7 linked regions of the Homo sapiens genome follow. The protein of the gene in region 1 purifies or fractionates together with the protein of each later gene. This does not show direct contact. Each region holds a gene or a part of one and is shown in the gene's direction. Other genes may lie near its edges. The genes, in order: EFNB3, RAD51C, PLCD3, DENND11, TUBB3, PKN3 and TRIM11.

The links.
Region 2: the proteins of EFNB3 (region 1) and RAD51C purify together in Homo sapiens (affinity purification with mass spectrometry; 2 studies listed by BioGRID and IntAct, with this or other methods). This does not show direct contact.
Region 3: the proteins of EFNB3 (region 1) and PLCD3 purify together in Homo sapiens (affinity purification with mass spectrometry; 2 studies listed by BioGRID and IntAct, with this or other methods). This does not show direct contact.
Region 4: the proteins of EFNB3 (region 1) and DENND11 purify together in Homo sapiens (co-immunoprecipitation; 3 studies listed by BioGRID and IntAct, with this or other methods). This does not show direct contact.
Region 5: the proteins of EFNB3 (region 1) and TUBB3 purify together in Homo sapiens (affinity purification with mass spectrometry; 2 studies listed by BioGRID and IntAct, with this or other methods). This does not show direct contact.
Region 6: the proteins of EFNB3 (region 1) and PKN3 purify together in Homo sapiens (affinity purification with mass spectrometry; 2 studies listed by BioGRID and IntAct, with this or other methods). This does not show direct contact.
Region 7: the proteins of EFNB3 (region 1) and TRIM11 purify together in Homo sapiens (affinity purification with mass spectrometry; 2 studies listed by BioGRID and IntAct, with this or other methods). This does not show direct contact.

What each region holds. Positions count from the first base shown.
Region 1 is NC_000017.11:7,708,202-7,711,872, forward strand, and holds the end of EFNB3 (ephrin-B3 precursor), read left to right. Parts: coding exon 1-49; intron 50-233; coding exon 234-326; intron 327-433; coding exon 434-538; intron 539-965; coding exon 966-1,375; 3' UTR 1,376-3,171; downstream 3,172-3,671. UniProt on the Homo sapiens protein: Cell surface transmembrane ligand for Eph receptors, a family of receptor tyrosine kinases which are crucial for migration, repulsion and adhesion during neuronal, vascular and epithelial development.
Region 2 is NC_000017.11:58,706,102-58,709,601, forward strand, and holds part of RAD51C (DNA repair protein RAD51 homolog 3), read left to right. Parts: intron 1-3,500. UniProt on the Homo sapiens protein: Essential for the homologous recombination (HR) pathway of DNA repair. Involved in the homologous recombination repair (HRR) pathway of double-stranded DNA breaks arising during DNA replication or induced by DNA-damaging agents.
Region 3 is NC_000017.11:45,115,516-45,119,015, reverse strand, and holds part of PLCD3 (1-phosphatidylinositol 4,5-bisphosphate phosphodiesterase delta-3), read left to right. Parts: coding exon 1-201; intron 202-523; coding exon 524-725; intron 726-877; coding exon 878-1,022; intron 1,023-2,231; coding exon 2,232-2,384; intron 2,385-3,429; coding exon of another isoform or gene 3,430-3,459; exon of another isoform or gene 3,460-3,500. UniProt on the Homo sapiens protein: Hydrolyzes the phosphatidylinositol 4,5-bisphosphate (PIP2) to generate 2 second messenger molecules diacylglycerol (DAG) and inositol 1,4,5-trisphosphate (IP3).
Region 4 is NC_000007.14:141,695,667-141,699,166, reverse strand, and holds part of DENND11 (DENN domain-containing protein 11), read left to right. Parts: intron 1-3,500.
Region 5 is NC_000016.10:89,933,342-89,936,597, forward strand, and holds the end of TUBB3 (tubulin beta-3 chain), read left to right. Parts: intron 1-126; coding exon 127-237; intron 238-1,387; coding exon 1,388-2,463; 3' UTR 2,464-2,756; downstream 2,757-3,256. UniProt on the Homo sapiens protein: Tubulin is the major constituent of microtubules, protein filaments consisting of alpha- and beta-tubulin heterodimers. Microtubules grow by the addition of GTP-tubulin dimers to the microtubule end, where a stabilizing cap forms.
Region 6 is NC_000009.12:128,716,003-128,719,502, forward strand, and holds part of PKN3 (serine/threonine-protein kinase N3), read left to right. Parts: intron 1-744; coding exon 745-921; intron 922-2,322; coding exon 2,323-2,385; intron 2,386-2,546; coding exon 2,547-2,623; intron 2,624-3,500.
Region 7 is NC_000001.11:228,400,336-228,403,835, reverse strand, and holds part of TRIM11 (E3 ubiquitin-protein ligase TRIM11), read left to right. Parts: intron 1-1,674; coding exon 1,675-1,770; intron 1,771-2,641; coding exon 2,642-2,872; intron 2,873-3,500.

The sequences.
Region 1 (3,671 bases):
AATCTCTGGGGCCACGAGTTCCGCTCGCACCACGATTACTACATCATTGGTACTGCTGGGCAGAGGGCACGATTGAGTGGGGGGCTCCTGATACTGAGCAGAGAGGGAGGGGGACCCCTGCAGCCAAGAGGGAGATCCCAGTGCCCTCAGGCAGTGTTCACACCAGGGTGTGGGGCCAGAATCAGGGCTAGATTCTGGAGTGCCAACCTCTTCCTCTGGCTTTTCTCTCCCAGCCACATCGGATGGGACCCGGGAGGGCCTGGAGAGCCTGCAGGGAGGTGTGTGCCTAACCAGAGGCATGAAGGTGCTTCTCCGAGTGGGACAAAGTGAGTGGGGCTGGGGGACACCTCCTGGGCACGAAGGGACGTTGGGGCAGTACGATCATGGTTGGGGCAGTTGTCTCAGCCCCTCTCTGGGTCTTCCTCATCTCCAGGTCCCCGAGGAGGGGCTGTCCCCCGAAAACCTGTGTCTGAAATGCCCATGGAAAGAGACCGAGGGGCAGCCCACAGCCTGGAGCCTGGGAAGGAGAACCTGCCAGGTAGGAACCAGGGGCTAGGCCCCTGCCTTCCCCAGCTTCCTCTGCTCTCAGACCCCAGCTGCCCTGCCGTCACCCTCCCTCCCTCTTCAGTTTTGGGGGCGGTGATACAGGAAAGAGGAGAAGAGAGGATGGGAGGGTGGGAGGGGAATGGAAACCAAATGAGGAAAAGACTCAATTAGAACTAATTAGCCAAGTCAGTGCTTCAATCAGTGCTGTCAGAGAAGTGGGGAGGACTCCGTGGCAGGAAGCTGAAGGGCTGGACACCTGGATTCTGAGCAGAGTTCGGAGGGGGAGGAGAGATGGGGTCCCCAAGGGGCCTGGGCGCTACAAGGGAAGCCCATGGGGACCCCCAGGGTTGGGTGTCCAGGTGCCCAGGTGGCTCCTTCAGTCCCTCCCCCTCTTTCCTCCTTCACCCCTTCCCTGCCAGGTGACCCCACCAGCAATGCAACCTCCCGGGGTGCTGAAGGCCCCCTGCCCCCTCCCAGCATGCCTGCAGTGGCTGGGGCAGCAGGGGGGCTGGCGCTGCTCTTGCTGGGCGTGGCAGGGGCTGGGGGTGCCATGTGTTGGCGGAGACGGCGGGCCAAGCCTTCGGAGAGTCGCCACCCTGGTCCTGGCTCCTTCGGGAGGGGAGGGTCTCTGGGCCTGGGGGGTGGAGGTGGGATGGGACCTCGGGAGGCTGAGCCTGGGGAGCTAGGGATAGCTCTGCGGGGTGGCGGGGCTGCAGATCCCCCCTTCTGCCCCCACTATGAGAAGGTGAGTGGTGACTATGGGCATCCTGTGTATATCGTGCAGGATGGGCCCCCCCAGAGCCCTCCAAACATCTACTACAAGGTATGAGGGCTCCTCTCACGTGGCTATCCTGAATCCAGCCCTTCTTGGGGTGCTCCTCCAGTTTAATTCCTGGTTTGAGGGACACCTCTAACATCTCGGCCCCCTGTGCCCCCCCAGCCCCTTCACTCCTCCCGGCTGCTGTCCTCGTCTCCACTTTTAGGATTCCTTAGGATTCCCACTGCCCCACTTCCTGCCCTCCCGTTTGGCCATGGGTGCCCCCCTCTGTCTCAGTGTCCCTGGATCCTTTTTCCTTGGGGAGGGGCACAGGCTCAGCCTCCTCTCTGACCATGACCCAGGCATCCTTGTCCCCCTCACCCACCCAGAGCTAGGGGCGGGAACAGCCCACCTTTTGGTTGGCACCGCCTTCTTTCTGCCTCTCACTGGTTTTCTCTTCTCTATCTCTTATTCTTTCCCTCTCTTCCGTCTCTAGGTCTGTTCTTCTTCCCTAGCATCCTCCTCCCCACATCTCCTTTCACCCTCTTGGCTTCTTATCCTGTGCCTCTCCCATCTCCTGGGTGGGGGCATCAAAGCATTTCTCCCCTTAGCTTTCAGCCCCCCTTCTGACCTCTCATACCAACCACTCCCCTCAGTCTGCCAAAAATGGGGGCCTTATGGGGAAGGCTCTGACACTCCACCCCAGCTCAGGCCATGGGCAGCAGGGCTCCATTCTCTGGCCTGGCCCAGGCCTCTACATACTTACTCCAGCCATTTGGGGTGGTTGGGTCATGACAGCTACCATGAGAAGAAGTGTCCCGTTTTGTCCAGTGGCCAATAGCAAGATATGAACCGGTCGGGACATGTATGGACTTGGTCTGATGCTGAATGGGCCACTTGGGACCGGAAGTGACTTGCTCCAGACAAGAGGTGACCAGGCCCGGACAGAAATGGCCTGGGAAGTAGCAGAAGCAGTGCAGCAGGAACTGGAAGTGCCTTCATCCAGGACAGGAAGTAGCACTTCTGAAACAGGAAGTGGTCTGGCTGGAACTCCAAGTGGCTTAGTCTGGGGGATCAGGAGGTGGGAGGTGGATGGTTCTTATTCTGTGGAGAAGAAGGGCGGGAAGAACTTCCTTTCAGGAGGAAGCTGGAACTTACTGACTGTAAGAGGTTAGAGGTGGACCGAGAAGGACTTTTCCCAGTCTTCAGTGGCACTTCCCAAGATCTCCCTTCCCTTGTGCTCTGTGCTGATTTTAGGACAGCTAAGATGACTGCCATGTGCTGTGGCAGGCCTAATTTGTCTTGTTCTTTCCTTTCCATATCCCAGTATAATCTCTGTTAATCAACAGGACTACCCCAAGAACCCATGTGCTCTCCCGAGTAACCCAGATGGCTGTCTTGTTCATTCCATCCTACATTTCTGACTCCTTTCAGACTCAACACAGTTCCCTTCTTAGTGACCAAAATGGTGGCCTACTGGCTGGTCTAGCTGACAGTGGTACTTAGCAAAGGCCACTGTTTCCATAGTGACCAGCTGATACCTCTTCCTGCCCTCTAGTGTGCAATTGGGTGTTGCCTCAGTTTCCTCCCAGCTCAGTTTTATTAGATCAAAGCTGTTGTTGGGCACCAGGTTGGCCACCTCAATCACCAGCCAAGATGGTTGCTTTGTCCACCAGAGGTCAAGTTCACCTCTCTGGTGCTGTAGTTCCCAGCTCCTTCCTGATTTTTCTAATCGCTCCTTCTGGGGAACAGGAAGTTGATATTGCCATGGTGGCGGGGTATGCCGTCACCTCAGTAGTTTTACTGTAAAAGGGAAATTTGAACAACAAAAACCAAAAAAAATAAAAATAAAAAACTTCAAAAGTTGACAAGAAGGCTGGAGAATGACTGGACTTGAATTGGGACAAAGGCTTGGTTAGAATGGCTTTCAGCTGAGGGTTGGATTGCATGAAACCAACCAAGGGGGGTGGGTAGGGATAGGGCTAGTTTGGAGTGGTGAGGTTGGCAGTGCTTGGGGAGGCGAAAATGGGCTGGGCGAGAAGGCAGAGGAAGGTGTCACCTCTAGGGGAGGGAGAGAGTAATGCAGGCAGGAGTGGGGTCGCCAATTCATCCATGGGGACAGTCTGAGTGTCTTGCTAAGCCAAAGCACCAGAGACAGGGTAAGACGCAATTAGGATCAAAGTGGTAAAAACATGTTCACATGTTAAAGTCTATTCCCTACCATCCCTACCCAAGGCACTTGAGAAGTTTTGCTGTTGGGGACTCATGGGGAGAAGGGATGTGGCTGATCAGAAGGAAGTAGGAAGGACTCAGGGAGGGACCCAGGCATCAAGCTGCGTGTGCCCTGGCTCCCTGTATACCCATAACC
Region 2 (3,500 bases), about 51 Mb from region 1:
AGGCAAATTTCATTGGACCATAAGGCTCAAGAATAATCCTTTGCTGGCCAGGCACGGTGGCTCATGCCTGTAATCCCAGCACTTTGGGAGGCTGAGGCAGGCAGATCACGAAGTCAGGAGTTTGAGACCACCCTGGCCAATATGGTGAAACCCTGTCTCTACTAAAAATACAAAAATTAGCCGGGCATGGTGGTGCGTGCCTGTAGTCCCAGCTACTAGGGAGGCTGAGGCAGAAGAATCACTTCAACGCAGGAGGCAGAGGAGATTGCAGTGACATGAGATCATGCCACTGCACTCCAGCCTGAGTGACAGAGTGAGACTCCATCTCAAAAAAATAATAATAATTAAAAAAAGAATGATCCTTTGCTTTGATGCTCTGCCTTCCAGGCCCACTGCAGTAGCAGAATCACCCTACTGCTCTGTGGGGTGGCCCTGCCCCTTCCTCTCTCTGCAAGGGCCCCACCCTCTGAAACCAAGGACGACATAGCATTGCCCCCTGGGCTTATGGTAAGAGTGACAGCTCTGAGGATCTGTGATCCCCTTTGGCACCATTCTTTCCTTTTCTTGAGGAATAGGGCACATTCACAGTCAAGTAGCTCATGGTTTTCTCTTGTGGAATCAAGGAAGTCCAACAGCCTTCGTTCATTCTTTCCCACTTACTCTGTCCTCTTTACTTCAAACTAGCAGTGTTTCTGCTGTTATAATCCCTTATCTATCACTGGCTTCTGCTGAGATGGCTGATTAACATCATGGATAATCTATTTATAGAGTCATTGTTCAACCGTACCTTTGGTCTTCTCTCTAGAGCAAGCTTTCTTATTTTTAGCAATATGGATAGGCTGAGAATTTTCTACATCTCTAAGTTCTGGTTCCTTCTTGCTGAACAATTCCTTCTTCAATTCATCTGTCTCCTCTTTCATTTTTACTATAAGTGGTCTAGGAGAAACCAAGCCACTTCCTCTACACTTTGCTTAGAAATCTCCTGAGATAAATAGCCAATTTCATTTCTCACAAGTTTTACCTTCCATAAAATACTAGAACACAGCCAAGTTCTTTGCCACTTTATACTAAGCACCAGCTTTCCTTCAGTTTCCAGTAACTTGTTCCTCATTTCTGTATAAATCCTCACCAGAATAGCCGGGCATGGTGGCTCACACCTGTAATCCCAGCACTTTGGGAGGCTGAGGTGGGCGGATTGCCTGAGGTCAGGAGTTCAAGACCAGTCTGGCCAACATGGTGAAACCCCGTCTCTACTAAAAATACAAAAAAATTAGCTGGGTGTGGTGGCGTGTGCCTGTTAATCCCAGCTACTAGGGAGTCTGAGGCGGGAGAATTGCTTGAACCAGGGAGGTGGAGGTTGCAGTGAGCCAAGAACGCACCACTGCACTCCAGCCTGGGCAACAGAGCGAGACTCCATCTGAAAAAAAAAAAAAGCCTCACCAGAATTGCCCTTAATGTCCATATTTTCAGTATGTGCCTCAAAACTGTTCCAGCCTTTGCTTATTACCCAATTTGAAAATCACTTCCACATTTTAGGTATTTGTTATAGTAGTACCTTGCTTCTCTCACTACCTAACCCACCATACCTCATTTCTTGATACTAAAATTTGTTGTGGTCACCTCAGGCTGCCATAACAAAAATACTATAGTCTGAGTGGCTTGAACAACAGAAATTTTATTTTCTTACAGTTCTGGAGACTAGAAGCTCAAGATAAGGTTCTGGCTGATTGGTCTCTGGTGAGAGCTCTCTCCCTGGCATGTAGATGGCCACCTTCTTGCTGTGTCCTCATGGGGAGGAAGGAGGAAGAGTGAGCTCTTTGGTGTCTTTTCTTCAAGGACACTAATCCTCTCAAATCAGGATGTCATTCTCATGACCTAATTTTACGTTAATTACTACCTTAGAGGCCCTCTCTCCAAATACAGTCACACTGGGAGATAGGGCTTCAATTTACGAATATTGGGGGGACACAGCAGTGGTCATGTGTGGAGTCATGAAAAATCGAATCAACCTGTGCACATATTCCCAGCTGACGTTGAACAAGGTCATGTTCTGCCTTTTTATTTCAGCTCTCTACTGTAAACAAGTGTCCTTTTCACAGTCTTTATAATGCCACTTTTTTTTGCATTTTTGTGCTTTTTATTAGTGTTCACCTGTTCTTCATCACTTCAACCAGTTTCATTTTCTTATAATTATCGGAAATTACCTTATTTGTGTGTTTGTTTGCATATTAATGGTCCCTTACTCCACTAAAACATAACCTCCAAGAGAGCAGGGACCTTCTCTCTTATTTACTATATTCTTCTCTCTTATTTACTATATCATCCCCAATGCCTGGAACAGTAAATAGCATATAGGAAAGGAGGTGTCAATTAATACTTGCTAAATGAAGAAACAAATACTCTAAATAAAACAACTTACTTAGGCATTGCTTCATAAAAGCCTCTTGTTTAATCCAACCCTTACTAGATAGAAAAAAACATAGCATTGGAGTCTTTTGTTTGTTTACATTTGGGTTAGTTTCCAGATTCTTTTTGATTTGGGGATCTTAAGGTTTATATATTGGTTTATTTTTCTAACTTCACTGTTTATTTTTTGCTTTGGGGGGGGCTTTCTTTTGAAAGGGTTTTGCTCTGTCCCCCAGGCTGGAGTGCATGGCAGGGTTTCACCACGTTGGCCAGGCTGGTCTCAAACTCCTGACCTCGTGATCCACCTGCTTCGGCCTCCCAAAGTGCTGGGATTACAGATGTGAGCCACCGCGCCCAGCCTGAAGGTTTTTTTGTTTTTTGTTTTTTGTTTTAGGAAACATAAAAAGAACCCGGAAGGTAAAATTGGTATATTTAATTGACAAATGTGTTGTTTTACCAAGACTTTTTCTTTAAGCCTTTTCAGAATGTTTTACAAAGACTTTAAATGTGCTTTTTATCAGTAAAGACTGTGTACAGTGGCAAGTTAAAGAAAATTATAATTATTCCTTTTTCTTTTTGAATTACTTTTTTTTTTTTTTTTTTTTGAGACAAAGTCTCACTCTGTCGCCCAGGCTGGAGTACAGTGGCGCAACCTCTGCCACCAGGGTTCAAGAGATTCTCCTGCCTCAGCCTCCTGAGTACCTGGGATTACAGGTGCCTGCCACTGTGCCTGGCTAATTTTTGTAGTTTTAGCAGAGATGGGGTTTCACCATCTTGGCCAGGCTGGTCTTGAACTCCTGACCTCGTGATCCACCTGCCTCGGCCTCCCAAAGTGCTGGGATTACAGGTGTGAGCCACCGCGCCCAGCCTTTGAATTACTTTTTTAAAGTTGAGAAATTATCAAAGCAGAGTCCGTTTTAACTTTTAGTGATTATTGCAGAAAGCACTGGCTGAACAGCTTTGTAACTTTCCAAAAGAAAGCCATACTTTAGACAGTTGGAAATAAAGCCCTGGGTTTTAAGGTTTTTTCCTGTAATGGACTATGGTTTTTCCAATGCTATGTTTTTTTCTATCTAGTAAGGGTTGGATTAAAG
Region 3 (3,500 bases), about 37 Mb from region 1:
TAGAGGGGGCTGAGATCGAGGAGTTCCTGCGGCGGCTGCTGAAGCGGCCGGAGCTGGAGGAGATCTTCCATCAGTACTCGGGCGAGGACCGCGTGCTGAGTGCCCCTGAGCTGCTGGAGTTCCTGGAGGACCAGGGCGAGGAGGGCGCCACACTGGCCCGCGCCCAGCAGCTCATTCAGACCTATGAGCTCAACGAGACAGGTGGGGGGGGTGGCACGGCCAGGTCGTGGCACCTGAAAGGGCTGTGTTCCCAGCTAAGCGGGTTCTGCTGCGGGCTGGCGCGGGCATCATCTCGGGCAGGTTACCTCACCTCCTCCAGACTCAGCTTCCACATGTGTAAAATGGCACAACAGTTTGTCTTCCTCCCAGGGTCTGGTCGAAGGTTAAGTGGCATGACTTACATGGAGTCTAGTCAGTAGATTGTCTAGTCATTATTCCTAAGCTGAGTGGGCCTTGGGGGCATTGGAAGCTGGACATGGGGGATCCCTATGTGGCCTGATGCCCTCTCCTGCCACCCCTGCAGCCAAGCAGCATGAGCTGATGACACTGGATGGCTTCATGATGTACCTGTTGTCGCCGGAGGGGGCTGCCTTGGACAACACCCACACGTGTGTGTTCCAGGACATGAACCAGCCCCTTGCCCACTACTTCATCTCTTCCTCCCACAACACCTATCTGACTGACTCCCAGATCGGGGGGCCCAGCAGCACCGAGGCCTATGTTAGGTACTGTAGCAGGGGGTGAATGTTTCCGGGAGCCCCACCTGGGGAGAGACATGGGCTGGCTTCCTGGGGCCTTCCTGGCCCAGCCTGCCTGCTGCCCTGCTCTGTGGCACTCTGGCAACACCTTGCCCGTCCACCCATCTGTCCACACACAGGGCCTTTGCCCAGGGATGCCGCTGCGTGGAGCTGGACTGCTGGGAGGGGCCAGGAGGGGAGCCCGTCATCTATCATGGCCATACCCTCACCTCCAAGATTCTCTTCCGGGACGTGGTCCAAGCCGTGCGCGACCATGCCTTCACGGTGAGCCCCTGGGATGCCCAGCCCCAGCCCCACAGCCTTCCCAATGACCTCCGTCCGCACTCACATGCCAGCTGCCCTCCGTCCTTCCAGAGGAAACCCTTGCCCAGAGAATCATTCATTCACCAAGTGCTGCTGGGATAAGTGGCCAATGGGGTGGCATAAAGCTGAATGAGATGCCACCCTCATATTTGGGAAATATGTTCCCTCTCTCATATTTGGGAAATGTCCTAAAAATCACAGAGTTTCCAGAAGAAAACCTTTGGGGGAGGGAAGGACATTTTAATCATGACTTCCAAAGAATAAATAAGCTGTAAGAGAAGCTCACCAGTGGCATCTGCATAAACACTGCAACTTTGGTCACAGTGTGCAAATCTTCCCATCAGCAAATGATGGGAGGAGAGTTTTCACATCACTGACATAGTCAATGTCATTCACATGTAAAAAGCATTTATGGGACCAGGTGCGGTGGCTCACACCCGTATTCCCAGCACTCTGGGAGGCTGACGCGAGGATCACTTGAGGCCAGGAATTCCAGACCAGCCTGAGCAAATAGCTACATCCTGTCTCAACAAAAATAAAAATTAGCTGAGTGTGGGGGCATGTGCCTGTAGGCTGAGTTACTCAGGAGGCTGAGGTGGGGGGATCACTTGAGCCCAGGACTGGAGAACACAGGGAGACTGACTGTGCCACTGCACTTCAGCCTGGGTGATGGAGAGAGACCAAAGCATAGACAACAACAACAAAAAATCGGCCAGGCGTGGTGGCTCTCACCTGTAATCCCAGCACTTTGGGAGGCTGAGGTGGGCAGATCACCTGAGGTCAGGAGTTTGAGACCAGCCTGGCCAACATGGTGAAACCTCATCTCTATTAAAAATACAAAAATTAGCCGGGTGTGGTGGCGGGCGCCTGTAATCCCAGCTACTTAGGAGGCTGAGGCAGGGAGAATCGCTTGAACCCGGGAGATGGAATTGTAGTGAGCTGAGATTGCACCACTATACTCCAGCATGGGCGACAGAGCAACACTCCATCTCAAAGAAAAAAAAAATAATTCCTGCAGCCGCCCTCAGCCTCCTGGACAGTCTGCTGCTTCCCTGGGTTCTCCAGAGCCCTGCCTTTGCCTGCCTGTCCTGAAGGGTCTGGGAGCCAGATGTTGGGAGATACTGGCAGAGGGAGGGGAGTGGCTCTGAGCTGCTGCCCTTCCCCCCACAGCTGTCCCCTTACCCTGTCATCCTATCCCTGGAGAACCACTGCGGGCTGGAGCAGCAGGCTGCCATGGCCCGCCACCTCTGCACCATCCTGGGGGACATGCTGGTGACACAGGCGCTGGACTCCCCAAATCCCGAGGAGCTGCCATCCCCAGAGGTGACGCCCCCCAGCCCCTAGCCTGGGTGGAGGGAGGTCTGGTGGGAGTCCGCCTCCCCGCACTGCTCGTGCCACCTCTGTGGCTCAGGACCCCTCACCTCTTGCTGCCTTAACTTTTCTCTGTTCCTCTGTTCATCTGAGGTCTGCCATCCCCTGGTCTTGTCCTTCTGCTGCCCTCTGGCTCTCCATTCTTGACTAGACCCCCCCACACACACACCCTCTTCTGTAACCTGGCTTTGCCCTGCTGGCCCTGTGTCCCTGCCCGTAGAGTCCTGCAGGCTCTGCCATTCCCACCTGCAAGGCCCCGCTTGACACTTTCTCCACCTGGAAGTCCCTTCTCGGCCATCCACACTTGCCAAGCGTCACCTGCTTAGAATTCAGCTCAACTTCAGCCGCCTCTTCCTGTGGCCTTATCCACTTCCCCAACTCTCGGGCCTGAGGCGGCCTCCTGCTCTCCCCCAGACACCAGAGCGCGTCCTCGGCTCTCTCCAGACATTTATCCTGTCGGGCTCCTTGAGAAAACTCTCCTCCTACTTCCAATCCCCAACATGCAGGCAGGGTTGACTCACCCTCGTGTGTGTGTGAGATGTGATTTTTGTTATTACTGTGAAAATCACACCCGTATGGTAAAAGAAAACTGAGCTGTACTAAGGGACGCGATGAGCAGTGCTCCCCTCCCTCCACTGACCTGTCCTCTTTCACAAGAAGTAACCATCTCTAACTTTCTTGCATGTCCTTCAAGAATTTCCCCACACACATTACCTGTGTACATATGTGTACTGTCTTCTCTTTTAAATGGTACCAAAAAAGGACATGTGATTCCAGGTTGTAGCCTCACTTCTTCCACGTAAGATCTTCTTTGAAGAGGGTCCCTTTCCTTTCAGTCCTGAGCTGTCGCGTGCATTGTAGTGGCTGCTGTGTATATTCTGATGTTGAGGGACCTTATTAAGCATCCCTTCCTGATGGCCTCCCGGGCCATTCTCCACTCTTTCCTATTAGAAACATCGCTCATCTCTGTGTCTCCTTTCCTGCCTCCCACCCCTAGCCAGCCCCTCACAAGGCGGTGGTTGAATAACTGACTGACTGGCTGCCACAGGGGCGAGAAGGCCTAACCCT
Region 4 (3,500 bases), on another chromosome or scaffold:
CCTTCGCCTGTGTTGCCAAAAGCGATAAAGTGAATATTGACTTCTTTACCAAAATTAGAGCATATTTTAGAAGTTCTTACATAGGTGTGATTTGTCTGCTGTTTAGTTTCTCTCGCTGGCCTGCCTGCTTAGCCACTTCCCCATGTCTCTCCCACCTGTGTCCTCAGTTTCCACTCCTAGGAGATCCTTCCTCCCCCCACCCCACACCCACCTCAACCCTCCGCCACCCCCATCACTTACTGCCCAGGCCATGGCATTATGTGCATCTTCCCATGTAATGTGGGTAACTGTTGGCATGTGTCCAAATCAGTGTGTGTGCCTGAGAGAGAGGGAGAGTGAAAGAGGAAGAAGAGAATTCATAGCTGTACATTCATTAGGTAGTAGAGTAAGAGGGAAAAGGAGGGGTGGATCCTTGTTAGAAAGGGTGTGTGTGTGTGTGTTTGAGCAGGAATATATGCAGTGATTCTCTAAGGTGTGGAAATAAGAGTAATCCTTTTGCACTTTTAGATACAAGTTTTGGAAAGCTAGGCTGGCCATCTGTGGGAAGAATCAGAGAAAGAGTCTTAAAGCTTATTTCCATCAGACTCATGGATTGAAAATTATGGTTGCTGAGTCTACAGGTGACTTAAGAACTAGGGGCTTCAGGTTCAAAGTGAGGCTTACACATACACTCAGTCCTCATCTGGAGCAGGGGGCCCTAGGATGGTGGTGCTGATCATCTGGGCCACAAAGCTGCTATTGAAACCAGACCCAGATGCTAACTCTGCAAGCTGGGTGGAAGATGTTGGAAGCCAGAATATTGCTGTTTCATTTTGTTCAACCCCATGATTTAGAGCCTTGATTTTAATTTTACTTCATTATTTGGGCTTCTAGTAAAATGTTCTTAGTCTGCTTAATTAAAGGAGAGGATATTGTCACACTTGGGGAGCACCCCTGCCCCCAGATGGTGGCAAGAGCGGTATCACCGTGTGGCTGAGGACTTGTGTGTGGGCAGGATGGAGGCCGATGAAGCTTTGAACATACAATGTCTGGACATCTTTGCATCTGCCTCATTAGACTGTTTCTTTATAAGAGATTCACTTTACACTGCTGCGTTTAGAGTTTTATTGTGGGTGTCTGGGAGAAATTCCTGTGCTCCCTGTGTTTGTACTGGGGCAGCTTGCAAGAGGAGGGGTAAGGTGAGAGGCAGATCACCTGCTGAGGTTTTCAAGATGTTTCTCCCTTTCTTCTTGGGAATGAATTTCTACCTGTTCCTCAGCCTCTAGCCAGTGCCCAGATTACATCTAAACACCTATTTAATTTAATGTATCCGAGCGCTTCTATGTTTATGTCACATGAGTACATTTAAAATCACACACACTAATTTTAATCTCTGTAGATTCCCTGTATAGTCTATGAAACATAAGCATTTTTTTTTTAAACAATGGAGATGATGGAGGCCCAGTGAGAATAGGGCTAGGTCTGGTGTCTGAGGCACCACTTGGAGCGCTGCCCAGGTCATCTGACTCGTGGCAAATAATAAATGGCTCTAGCAATGGGTGGGAAAGTGACAAAGTAGAATGTGAATGGAAAATTTGGAGGACAATTTTAAGATGCAAAGAGCAGTCGTAAGCATGGACAGCTCAAATGCAGGCAAAGAAAAAGCCTGTTCTGATATCCGGCCAGAACGTCTCGCAGGAAGAGAAACTCTGTCATGTCGCCATCCTTCCCCTGTATTTCCACCTAATGCCAGTGGAATACAATTGTGGTTCATTTGCTTAATCCCACCCGGGTAGAATCTTTCCCAGGCTGTTGGTGATTCACCTGCTTGTGGTTTTCAGGGAGAAATCAGTTTGTAGCCATCTGCTGTGAAGTCAGTTTCTTCTCTTGAAAATTGAGGAGGGGAAAATAAAAATGGTAATTGTAATACCCACCACCTCCTGAGTGCCTGCTGTGTGCCAAGGACTGTGCCACATGTTTCAGTGACCTGCCTCTGATCCTCCCAACAGACTACACCATCATCATGAGAAAAACAGGTGCACAGAGCCATTAAGTTGTCTAAAGTTAGGGCCAGAGCCCAAGTCTACCTGCACCCCTTATCCACACCACACTACCACCCAGTGGAGAATGATATGGGATCTGTGAAATGGAAGGTCTTTCTTTGTAAAGTGAATGCATTGGAATTCAGCCATGGATTGGCATATAGCTGACTTTAAATCAGCAGGATTAGCTTCTTCCTGACTCAGGATTCTTTATCCTGATGCTTTTCTCTTTGCTTTGGATGTGCTCTCAGACTAGGTGGTTTTAAGACTGTTTCAAACCATGTAAGACCCAAAGTCAACTCACCTGGGTTATTTACTTTTCTGATGTTAGGGTCTGAACCAAATACTCTTTGGAGGTTTCCACCTGTGGGATCTGATGGCCCCTTTAGGTGGTTATGTGAAGGGAATGTATTGTTGGGACCTAGAATACTCTTTGATTCATGCCTTTATTCCTGAAACAGGATTTGTTTTGACTTCCTGATTACAATCAGGGCATATGTATACACAGATGGGAAGAGAACCGTGGAAAGAGTAAAACCTCAGGCACGTGCTGGGGTGGGAGTTCCACTCCTGAGGTCAGAGGAGCTGGAAGAGGATCTCCAGCTGAGGCAGTCTCTGGATAGGAAATGAAGAGCTCAGGAGGAAGTGCTTGCTTGGGAACCATCTAACAGAGGAGGAAGAAGAAATTCACATATTTCCTATTAAAAAGAGATTGTTTTGGTTCAAGATCATTGCTTTCTCTATTTTAAATATTTTGAGGTGAACTTTCTAGCAGACAGCAGTTACTGCAGTTAATGTCCAATCTCCCTAGGAAATAGTGATGAATTTTAAGACAGCTGGGGGTTTGGTCATTTCTCATTTAAACAGAACTAGTTTTGGAAGACAGAGGCAGTGGTCAACCTAGATAGGACAGCCTACCTCTGGCCTAGCCCATGGGCTTATAAAACCCCAGCTCTGGGAGGCCCTGGTGCACAGAGCTGTCAGGCTGACCTTTGGAGCTGTGAAGTGGCAGGGTTCAGACCATCTGTACATCCTCAGCCAGGCGCGACACTGACCTTCTGGCTTTGCCTGGGTAACTGAGCTGCCAGCCTCGTAGTCGGTTAGTCCAAGTTCCTTTAAACAGAGACATATTTGCCTTTGCATGAGCTCAGCACCTGGCAGGCACCGTGCTGCCAAGTTGTGCTCCACCAATATTTGTTCAATGACCAGCTGAATGTACACAATGCATATTGCCACATTTGTGCCTCCCGTGGTCATGTGAATCCCTCCTCAGAAGTTGTCTTTGCAGTAGAGGCTAGGAAGTGCCTGTAAGTACCTGTAATAGGTCCAAGTCATGGTCCAAGATGAGAAAGGACACAGAGATGGAAAGAGAGCAAGTTAGGGGAGAAAAAGGCACTTGTCACTGGCACCTCCTCTCTTTGATGGACTAGCCATGAGATGACCTCTTTTGTTGAATCTTCCAGGCCCCAGCTCCCTGGC
Region 5 (3,256 bases), on another chromosome or scaffold:
GACTTCAGAGTACAGGCTCTTAGGATGTGAGCAGGAGGATGGCAGGCGGGCACAGAATTCAGAAAGAATGAGGGAGAGGCTCTGGCCCTCTGTGACCCGAATCACCGAGCCCCTCTCTCCCCTCAGCTCACAAGTACGTGCCTCGAGCCATTCTGGTGGACCTGGAACCCGGAACCATGGACAGTGTCCGCTCAGGGGCCTTTGGACATCTCTTCAGGCCTGACAATTTCATCTTTGGTAAGTTCCCCCTGCTCCAAGCTCTGATGGCAGACCCCATCACAGGCAAGCCCAGGTCGGTGGACGGGGACGGCTGTGAGAAACAAGGAATGGTCAGCTCCTCACATGATCCTGAATGGTGGGAACTCATCTCTCCATTTTACAGCTGGGCATTGGAGGCCCAGAGAAAGGGTTCTGTGGGGAGAACAGAAACCACTCATGCATTTCAAGTGGAATGAAGTGTAAAGCAGACAGAAGCTTACAGAATTGCTAGAGAGCTGGTGAGACAGAACGGGGCCTCCAGAGGACTCCGGGGTCCAGGAGCACGAGGCCTTGCTGCGGTCAAGAGATCAGGACGTTCCCATGCCTGTGTCCTGGGGTTGGGCCGTGGATGCCACGTTCCCATGTCTGTGTCCTGGGGCGGGGCCGTGGATGCCACGTTCCCACGTCTGTGTCCTGGGGCGGGGCCGTGGATGCCACGTTCCCACGTCTGTGTCCTGGGGCGGGGCCGTGGATGCCACGTTCCCACGCCTGTGTCCTGGGGCGGGGCCGTGGATGCCACGTTCCCACGCCTGTGTCCTGGGGCGGGGCCGTGGATGCCACGTTCCCATGCCTGTGTCCTGGGGCGGGGCCGTGGATGCCACGTTCCCATGCCTGTGTCCTGGGGCGGGGCCGTGGATGCCACGTTCCCATGTCTGTGTCCTGGGGCGGGGCCGTGGACGCGCCACAGAAACAGGAGGGCCTCGCTTCACTTCTGCCTTCCCGACCGCAGCACATCCAGCTGGTAGATGCCAACTCGCATCCAGCCCCCAGCTGCCAGGGATTCTGGGGTGGCTGTTTGGGCTCCTGGCACTGCCAGTCGGAAGGAAGGTATGCTGGAGCAGGAGGGCTGATCCATTCACCCAGGATCCCCTCAGGAGGCAGAGCCTCGCTCTGCTGTGACCCCAAGTTCTCAAGACTCTGTCCAGAGCCCTCGTCCTGAGCACTCAGCAGCATCGGCTCAGGGAAGCCACGGCGGGTATGAGAAGGGGTGCTCAGTGGGGCCTACTTTACAGAAGACAGAACAGGCATGGGGCTGCCACGGCTGCCCTTGGGATGTTCAGGCAGGGGCTGGAGGTCTGGACTGCAGAGTCCCTGGCCCCTGTCTCTTACCCCTCTTCTCCCTGTACAGGTCAGAGTGGGGCCGGCAACAACTGGGCCAAGGGTCACTACACGGAGGGGGCGGAGCTGGTGGATTCGGTCCTGGATGTGGTGCGGAAGGAGTGTGAAAACTGCGACTGCCTGCAGGGCTTCCAGCTGACCCACTCGCTGGGGGGCGGCACGGGCTCCGGCATGGGCACGTTGCTCATCAGCAAGGTGCGTGAGGAGTATCCCGACCGCATCATGAACACCTTCAGCGTCGTGCCCTCACCCAAGGTGTCAGACACGGTGGTGGAGCCCTACAACGCCACGCTGTCCATCCACCAGCTGGTGGAGAACACGGATGAGACCTACTGCATCGACAACGAGGCGCTCTACGACATCTGCTTCCGCACCCTCAAGCTGGCCACGCCCACCTACGGGGACCTCAACCACCTGGTATCGGCCACCATGAGCGGAGTCACCACCTCCTTGCGCTTCCCGGGCCAGCTCAACGCTGACCTGCGCAAGCTGGCCGTCAACATGGTGCCCTTCCCGCGCCTGCACTTCTTCATGCCCGGCTTCGCCCCCCTCACAGCCCGGGGCAGCCAGCAGTACCGGGCCCTGACCGTGCCCGAGCTCACCCAGCAGATGTTCGATGCCAAGAACATGATGGCCGCCTGCGACCCGCGCCACGGCCGCTACCTGACGGTGGCCACCGTGTTCCGGGGCCGCATGTCCATGAAGGAGGTGGACGAGCAGATGCTGGCCATCCAGAGCAAGAACAGCAGCTACTTCGTGGAGTGGATCCCCAACAACGTGAAGGTGGCCGTGTGTGACATCCCGCCCCGCGGCCTCAAGATGTCCTCCACCTTCATCGGGAACAGCACGGCCATCCAGGAGCTGTTCAAGCGCATCTCCGAGCAGTTCACGGCCATGTTCCGGCGCAAGGCCTTCCTGCACTGGTACACGGGCGAGGGCATGGACGAGATGGAGTTCACCGAGGCCGAGAGCAACATGAACGACCTGGTGTCCGAGTACCAGCAGTACCAGGACGCCACGGCCGAGGAAGAGGGCGAGATGTACGAAGACGACGAGGAGGAGTCGGAGGCCCAGGGCCCCAAGTGAAGCTGCTCGCAGCTGGAGTGAGAGGCAGGTGGCGGCCGGGGCCGAAGCCAGCAGTGTCTAAACCCCCGGAGCCATCTTGCTGCCGACACCCTGCTTTCCCCTCGCCCTAGGGCTCCCTTGCCGCCCTCCTGCAGTATTTATGGCCTCGTCCTCCCCACCTAGGCCACGTGTGAGCTGCTCCTGTCTCTGTCTTATTGCAGCTCCAGGCCTGACGTTTTACGGTTTTGTTTTTTACTGGTTTGTGTTTATATTTTCGGGGATACTTAATAAATCTATTGCTGTCAGATACCCTTGCTTGGTGCCAGAGATGTCCTTTTATTCTGGAAAGTTGTGTCCAGTAGGTGGAGGGGCTGACAGGGAGGCCCGGGTGGACAGGCAAGAAGAGCTCATCCTCTCCCAGGCTGGCGGCTGAGAGAGGCCTGCGCTGGGGGCCGGAATGTGTCTCAAGGCACAGCCCGTGGGGAGACCCCGGAAACGGGAAGCCCGGGAGAAGGAACGGGAAGTACCTCATTCCAGACCTCAAGATGCAGCCCTCCCGACTTGGAAATAACCCCACACTCGTTCCCTGGCCTCCCACAGAGCGGCTTGCACCCCAGACTTTTCTCCCACCTGTCTGTAGGCTGAAAGTTGGGGCAGGTGGTCCCTCCTGCGGTGGAAACTGCCATCAGACCTGAAGCCTCGGGTCACAACCAGGGAGGTAGGGAAGGGGGCCCCGAGTGCTCCCTGAAAAAGACGGTGTGTTTAGTGTCTCGGGGCTGGGCCCTGGGAGGGGCTGCTGAGGTCAGGGAGATGC
Region 6 (3,500 bases), on another chromosome or scaffold:
AAAAAAAAAAAAAGGAGGGGGAGGCTGGGCACAGTGGCTCATGCCTGTAATCCCAGCACTTCAGGAGGCCAAGGTGGGAGGATTGCTTGAGCCCAGGAGTTCGAGGCCAGCCTGGACAACATGGTGAAACCCGCCTCTACAAAAAATACAAAAATTAGCTGGGCGTGGTGGTGCACACCCAGCTACTCGTGAAGCTGTGGTGGGAGGATCACTTGAACCTCAGTGGCGGAGGCTGCAGTGAGCCGAGATCGCACCACATCACTCCAGCCTGGGCAAGAAAGTGAGACCCTGTCTCAAAAAAAAAAAAAAAAAAGGCTGGGCGCACTGGCTCACACTTGTAATCCCAGCATTCTGGAAGGCCGAAGCAGGTGGATAACTTGAGGCCAAGAGTTCGAGACCAGCCTGGGCAACACAGCGAAACCCTGCGTCTACTAAAAATACAAAAATTAGCTGGGCGTGGTGGCGCACTCCTATAATCCCAGCTACTCGGGAGGCTGAGGCACAAAAATCTCTTGAACCCGGGAGGCAGAGGTTGCAATGAGCTGAGATCACACCACAGCACTCCAGCCCAGGCGACAGAGCAAGACTGTGTCTCAAAAAAAAAAAAAAAATGAAAAGAAACCATCAGTCTACTTGCCTGGCACTTTGGCTGAGGGCCCAGTGAGCCAGGGGTGTTGTGCAGGGCACAGGGCACAGCCCAGGGAAAGTTTTCCTTCCCTCTAATACTCTTGCTCTCTCCTGTAGCCTGTACTGCGAGAAGCGGATCCTGGAGGCTGTGGGCTGCACAGGGCACCCTTTCCTGCTCTCCCTCCTTGCCTGCTTCCAGACCTCCAGCCATGCCTGCTTTGTGACTGAGTTTGTGCCTGGTGGTGACCTCATGATGCAGATCCACGAGGATGTCTTCCCCGAGCCCCAGGCCCGGTGGGTTCCATCCCTCCTGCCTGCCTCTTCCAGCAAACTTTGCCTGGTTCCCTACACCCACTCTCTACATACTGCTTTCTCCAAGTGCCCAACAGCAGGGGAGCAGGAGTCAGAGGCCTTGGTTTACATCCTGGCACCAACTGACAGCATTTGTGATCCTGGGTATCAGCTTATGAAGCTGTGCATTAGGTTTCTTTTTTTTTTTTTTTTTTTTTTTTTTGTGAGACAGAGTCTGGCTCTTATTGCCCAGGCTGGAGTGCAATGGCATGATCTCGGCTCACCACAACCTCCGCCTCCCTGGTTCAAGCCATTCTCCTGCCTCAGCCTCCTGAGTAGCTGGGATTACAGGCATGCACCACCACTCCTGTCTAATTTTGTATTTTTAGTAGAGACGAGGTTTCTCCATGTTGGTCAGGTTGGTCTCTAACTCCTGACCTCAAGTGATCCGCCCACCTCGGCCTTCCAAAGTGCTGAGATTACAGGCGTGAGCCACCACACCTGGTGAGTCTCAGATCTTTATTTGAAAAATAGGCATGATTGGCCGGGCACCTGTAATCCCAGCACTTTGGAGGCTGAGGCGGGTGGATCACCTGAGGTCAGGAGTTCGTGACCTGGCCAACATGGTAAAATCTTGTCTCTACTAAAAATACAAAAATTAGCTAGGCATGGTGGCACACGCCTGTAATCCTAGCTACTTGAGAGGCTAAGGCAGGAGAATCGCTTGAACCCAGGAGGCGGAGGTTGGAGTGAGCCGAGATCCCGCCACTTCGGTCTGGCGACAGAGTGAGACTCCATCTAAAAAAAAAAAAAAAAAGGCCGGGCACGTTGGTTCATGCCTGTAATCCCCACACTTTGGGAGGCTGAGGCGTGTGGATCATGAGGTCAAGAGATCAAGACCATCCTGGCCAACATGGTGAAACCCTATCTCTATAAAAACTAAAAAAAAAAAAAAAAAAAAAAAATTAGCTGGGCGTGGTGGCGCGTGCCTGTAGTCTCAGCTACTTGGGAGGCTGAGGCAGGAGAATTGCTTGAACCCAGGAGGTGGAGGTTGCAGTGAGCCGAGATCGCACCGCTGCACTGCAGCCTGGGTGACAGAGTGAGACTCCGTCTCAAAAAAAAAAAAAATAGGCATGATGAATATCCACTGCAGGGACCAACACTTGGTCCCTGGCACCATTTAAGGGCCCATGAAGGGTGAGCTGGAAATGCACGCAACCTTGGGGCGACCTTGGGACTATTGGAGCACCCCCACCCTCAGCATGATGCTTGTCCCAGTCTCACTCATCTCTGACTCTGGCCGGGACATCCGGGATCCCCCCGCTATGGCCATCCTGGTGCCTCCCTGCCCTGCCTCCCTGGTGTGTGTCTTGGGCCTGAGTTCTCCCATAACCACCCCTGCAGCTTCTACGTGGCTTGTGTTGTCCTGGGGCTGCAGTTCTTACACGAGAAGAAGATCATTTACAGGTGACTTTTGTCCCAGGGATGCACGGGGGTAGGGGTGGGGGTGGGGGTGGAGTGGGTAAGGACAGATGCTGCCTCCGCCTGCCTGGGCTGCTCCAGGGGCCGTTACTGTTCCCTGGGTCTAAGCCCCACTCAGTCCCTTTGATCTGCACCCTTGCCCTCAGGGACCTGAAGTTGGATAACCTTCTGCTGGATGCCCAGGGATTCCTGAAGATCGCAGACTTTGGACTCTGCAAGGAAGGTGGGGGCCGCCCATTGGGATCCATATCTCCAGCCTTGTTTACCCACCCTGGCCAATAGGATGATGGGCACATGGCATGTCCCAGGAAATCTCCTCACCTGCGGATGCCCTGGTTCCACCACCCCAGACCTCATTCCAGGGGACAGCTGGGCACACTGGCCCTTTCTTCCTAGTCCTAGAGGCTCGTAGCCCCAGCCTGCACCTGGCCCAAGGGAGAGCCTGTGGTCAGGGATGGGAGAGGAGACTGAGTTCTGCCTTCTGTTTTTTTTTTGGTTTGTTTTTTTTTTTGAGACGGAGTCTTGCTGTGCCGCCCAGGATGCAATGCAGTGGTGCAGTCTCGGCTCACTGCAGCCTCCACCTACTGGGTTCAAGCGATTCTCTTGCCTCAGCAGCCCAAGTAGCTGGGACTACAAGCGAGCACCACCACACCTGGCTAATTTTTGTATTTTTTTAGTAGAGACGGGGTTTCACTGTGTTAGCGAGGATGGTCTCGATCTCCTGACCTCATGATCCACCCACCTTGGCCGCCCAAAGTGCTGGGATTACAGGCGTGAGCCACTGCGCCCGGCTTCTTTTTTTTTTGAGATGGAGTCTTGCCCTGTTGCCCAGGCTGGAGTGCAATGGCGCAATCTCGGCTCACTGCAACCTCTGCCTCCAAGGTTCAAGAGATTCTCCTGCCTCAGCCTCCCGAGTACCTGCGATTACAGGCACATGCCACCACACCCAGCTTATTTTTTGTATTTTTAGTAGAGACGGGGTTTCACCATGTTGGCCAGGCTGGTCTCGAACTCCTGACCTCATGATCTGCCCACCTCGGCCTCCCAAAGTGCTGGGATTACAGGTGTGAGCCACCGCACCCAGCCGAGTTCTGCCTTCT
Region 7 (3,500 bases), on another chromosome or scaffold:
AAAAAATACAAAAATTAGCTGGGTGTGGTGATGGGCACCTGTAATCCCAGCTACTCAGGGGGCTGAGGCAGAAGAATCACTTGAACACAGGAGGCAGAGGTTGCAGTGAGCCGAGATCGTGCCACTGCACTCCAGCTTGGGGGACAAAGCGAGACTCCGTCTCAAAAAAAGAAAACTGAAAATGTCCCGTAGGGACTGAGGCATTGAGGGAGAAGTGAGAGGCACTGGGCCAAGTGTTTGAGGTGGGGTTGGGGTCACAGGGGCCAGGCCTGAGTTTTCTGGAACAGGTCGGCAGCAGTGAGGAGAGAGGCCTGGGGACAGGGACCGCCATTTGGGGTTCTTGTAGCTCACGTGAGAGCTGAGCCTAGGCAGAGACAGTAAAGCAGTTGGACATGTCCTTGGTGCTCCAGCGGTCTTCCCGAATCGTGAGGCCAAGTGGTGAACTAAAGTGAGCACCTGGAGCCAGGCAGCTGGGCTGAAGTCCTGGCTCTGCTACCGGGGCAGACTTCTGGACCCTCCCAGCACCTCCATCCTTCCAGAGCGTGGATAGCGAGAGATGAGAGCCAAGACTTGGGGTGGCTGAGAAGCAAAGAGGTGTGGCCAGCACAGGGCCCGTTGCTGATAAGGGTGTCAGATGGGGTGGAAGTGAGCAGACCCTTCGAGAAGTGGGTTCAGGGCACCCCAAGCACACACAGTACAGTGAGCTTGTGTACAGGATTTTCACTGCTTCCTGGTATGCACAGCATGAGGAACCGTGGGAATGAGAATTAAGGACCAAGAAAGCAGAATGGAGGTGTACCCATCCTGGAGCTTATTACAGTGATAGCTGATGAAGCTGAAAATGCACAAGGTCCCGAGTGGCTTGGAGAAAAGATAGGGTGGGTAGCCAGGCATGTCTGTCCGTGCTGACTGTCCTACCAAAACACCATGGTTTGCACATGGCAGATGTATACAAGCTGGAGACTCACAGCTCTGGAGGCTGGAAGTCTAAGATCAAGCCCTGGCAGGTTTGGTGTCTGGTGAGGGTGCTTCCTGGTTCACAGACAACACCCTCTCACTGTGTTGTCATATGGTGAAAGGGGCGAGGGTTCCTTTATAACACTAATCCCATTGTGGCGGCACTGCCCTCCTGACCTAGTCACCTCCCAAAGCCCCCGCCTCCTAACATCATCACACTGGGTGTTGGGATTTCAACCTATGAATTTGTGGGGGCATAGGGCAGAATTTTTGGACCCCAGCATAGGCTTGGTCCAAGGCCCTTATGTGAGCCAGCAGGTGAGAAGGAAGAGGAGGAGGAGTAGACACTGGCTTGGGAACAGGAGAGCTCAGCACCTTCAGAGCCAGCTTGGGGACAGATGGGGTGGGCAGCCAGAACCCTTGAGGTAGCTTTGCAAAGGGGGGTGAGGCCTGGGCTAGGGTAGCAAGGTCGAGGACTAGAAATGCCCCATATGAGAAAAAGGAAAGAATGTGGCTGGGGCTGTCAGCCTCTGGCAAGAGGCTGCCCACCTACCATGAGGGCTCACGCTTATTGGAGGGCATTGAGTTCCCTGATTCACCAGGCAGATTTCAGTTTGTCCCCATTGTCTTTGAGGAGGGGACAGGGTGTCAGGTGCAAAAGGGCAGGCTTCTGTGACAGGACTCATGTCTCATGGTCCTGCCTGGCCTCTCCCGCAGGCGAAGCTGGAGAAGTCACTGGAGCATCTCCGGAAGCAGATGCAGGATGCGTTGCTGTTCCAAGCCCAGGCGGATGAGACCTGCGTCTTGTGGCAGGCAGGTGCTGGGGCTCCCAGGGTCCTGGGTGGCAGGGTAGGGGGTGAAGGTCCTGTATAGGAGACCCCAGGGGGCGATGCTGGCCAGGCACACTTGCCCTTGGCGCCCCAGGACCAGTCACTGCTTCAGCCTGGCCCCACCGAGCCCACTGAAGGGCTGGTCCTTTCCCACGTGCACCTGTCCTGCCAGGTCGTGGGCGTGGGCTCCCATACTGCAAGGGCCCCATCCTGGGGTCCCAGCATGCTTGGGTGGCAACTCTCAGGTGTATTTAGGGTCTGGGCCCTGGAGGTAAATTTGGAGGTTTTGAGGGACTAGGTCATAGATGTGGGATTCAGCCATCCTGAGGAGTAGATTTGGGATCTGTCCAGTTCTGGGGTAGATTTGGGGTCTGGGAGGCTCTGGGTGGTGGATTTGGGATCTGGGAAGCCCCAGGGGAGAATTTGGAGGTCAGGAGGGACCCTGGGTGGTAGATTTGTAGTCCAGCTGGCCCCAGGTGGTAGATGCAGGGTTCTACCAAGCCAATGGGTGGATTTGGAAGTTGGGGAGGGACTAGATAGTGGATTTGGGATCTAGTCGGCCCTGGGTTTAGATTTGGGGTCTAGCCAGTCCTGTGTGGTAGAATGGGATTTGGCTCTCCCTGAGTGGTGGATTTGGGGTTTGGGAGGTGCCACAGGTGGGTTTGGGGTCTGGCCAGCACCAGGTGGTGGGTTTGGGGTCCTGCCACACCTGGTGCTGTGCTTTGGCTTTAGCAGGCCCCGGGGGTGGGGTTGGGTGCAGCCAGGCCTCTGGGTGGGCTTGGGGTCTGACCAAACTTGGGGTCTGGCTGGGCCTGGGGTCTGGCCTCAGCTGTCCTTCTCCCTGGGCTCCACAGAAGATGGTGGAGAGCCAGCGGCAGAACGTGCTGGGTGAGTTCGAGCGTCTTCGCCGTTTGCTGGCAGAGGAGGAGCAGCAGCTGCTGCAGAGGCTGGAGGAGGAGGAGCTGGAGGTGCTGCCCCGGCTGCGGGAGGGCGCAGCCCACCTAGGCCAGCAGAGCGCCCACCTAGCTGAGCTCATCGCCGAGCTCGAGGGCCGCTGCCAGCTGCCTGCTCTGGGGCTGCTGCAGGTGAGCTGGGCGGGGAGCAGCCATGGTGGCCACACGGGCATGGCCTGGCCACACTGGGGGAGGGAGAACCAGAAAGTGCAAGAAGCAGGGGCAGAGAGGTTGTCTGGGCTGAGAGGTGAATGGCATGGCTGGATGTGCCTGGCTGTTGCCTGTGAAATGCTGAGTCAGCAGCAGGACAGATGTCCCACCCCCAAAACCCACGTGCCGAGAAAGGGAAAATCAATTTTCCTCTGTAGATGTAAACAGTTGATGTTTCTTAAGTGATTACATAAGGTCACTCCATCTCGTCCTGACTGACACTGCTGCTCCCTGTGGGCACAGCAGAGTGGGCATGTGCTCGCTGGGACCACCTTGGGCCTCCCATAGGATTCCTGCCATGGTGTCCCCAGCAGGAAGTCCTCGCCCTTCACTCTGTCTTCACCCCGCTGGCACACCCCATGCATCTCCATTATGGGGGGCAGTCTCCTCCTCCTCTGCTTCCAGGAGAGTCTTTTCCCATGTGTGGGCTCCACTCCCTGAGCCGGCCCCCTGGGCCTGGGCTTTCCTTGGTGCACCCCCAAACCAGAACCAGTGGACGCCCTGGCCTGTGGCCTGGCGGCAGGTCAGGGGGCCTGGAGTCAGCTCTCTC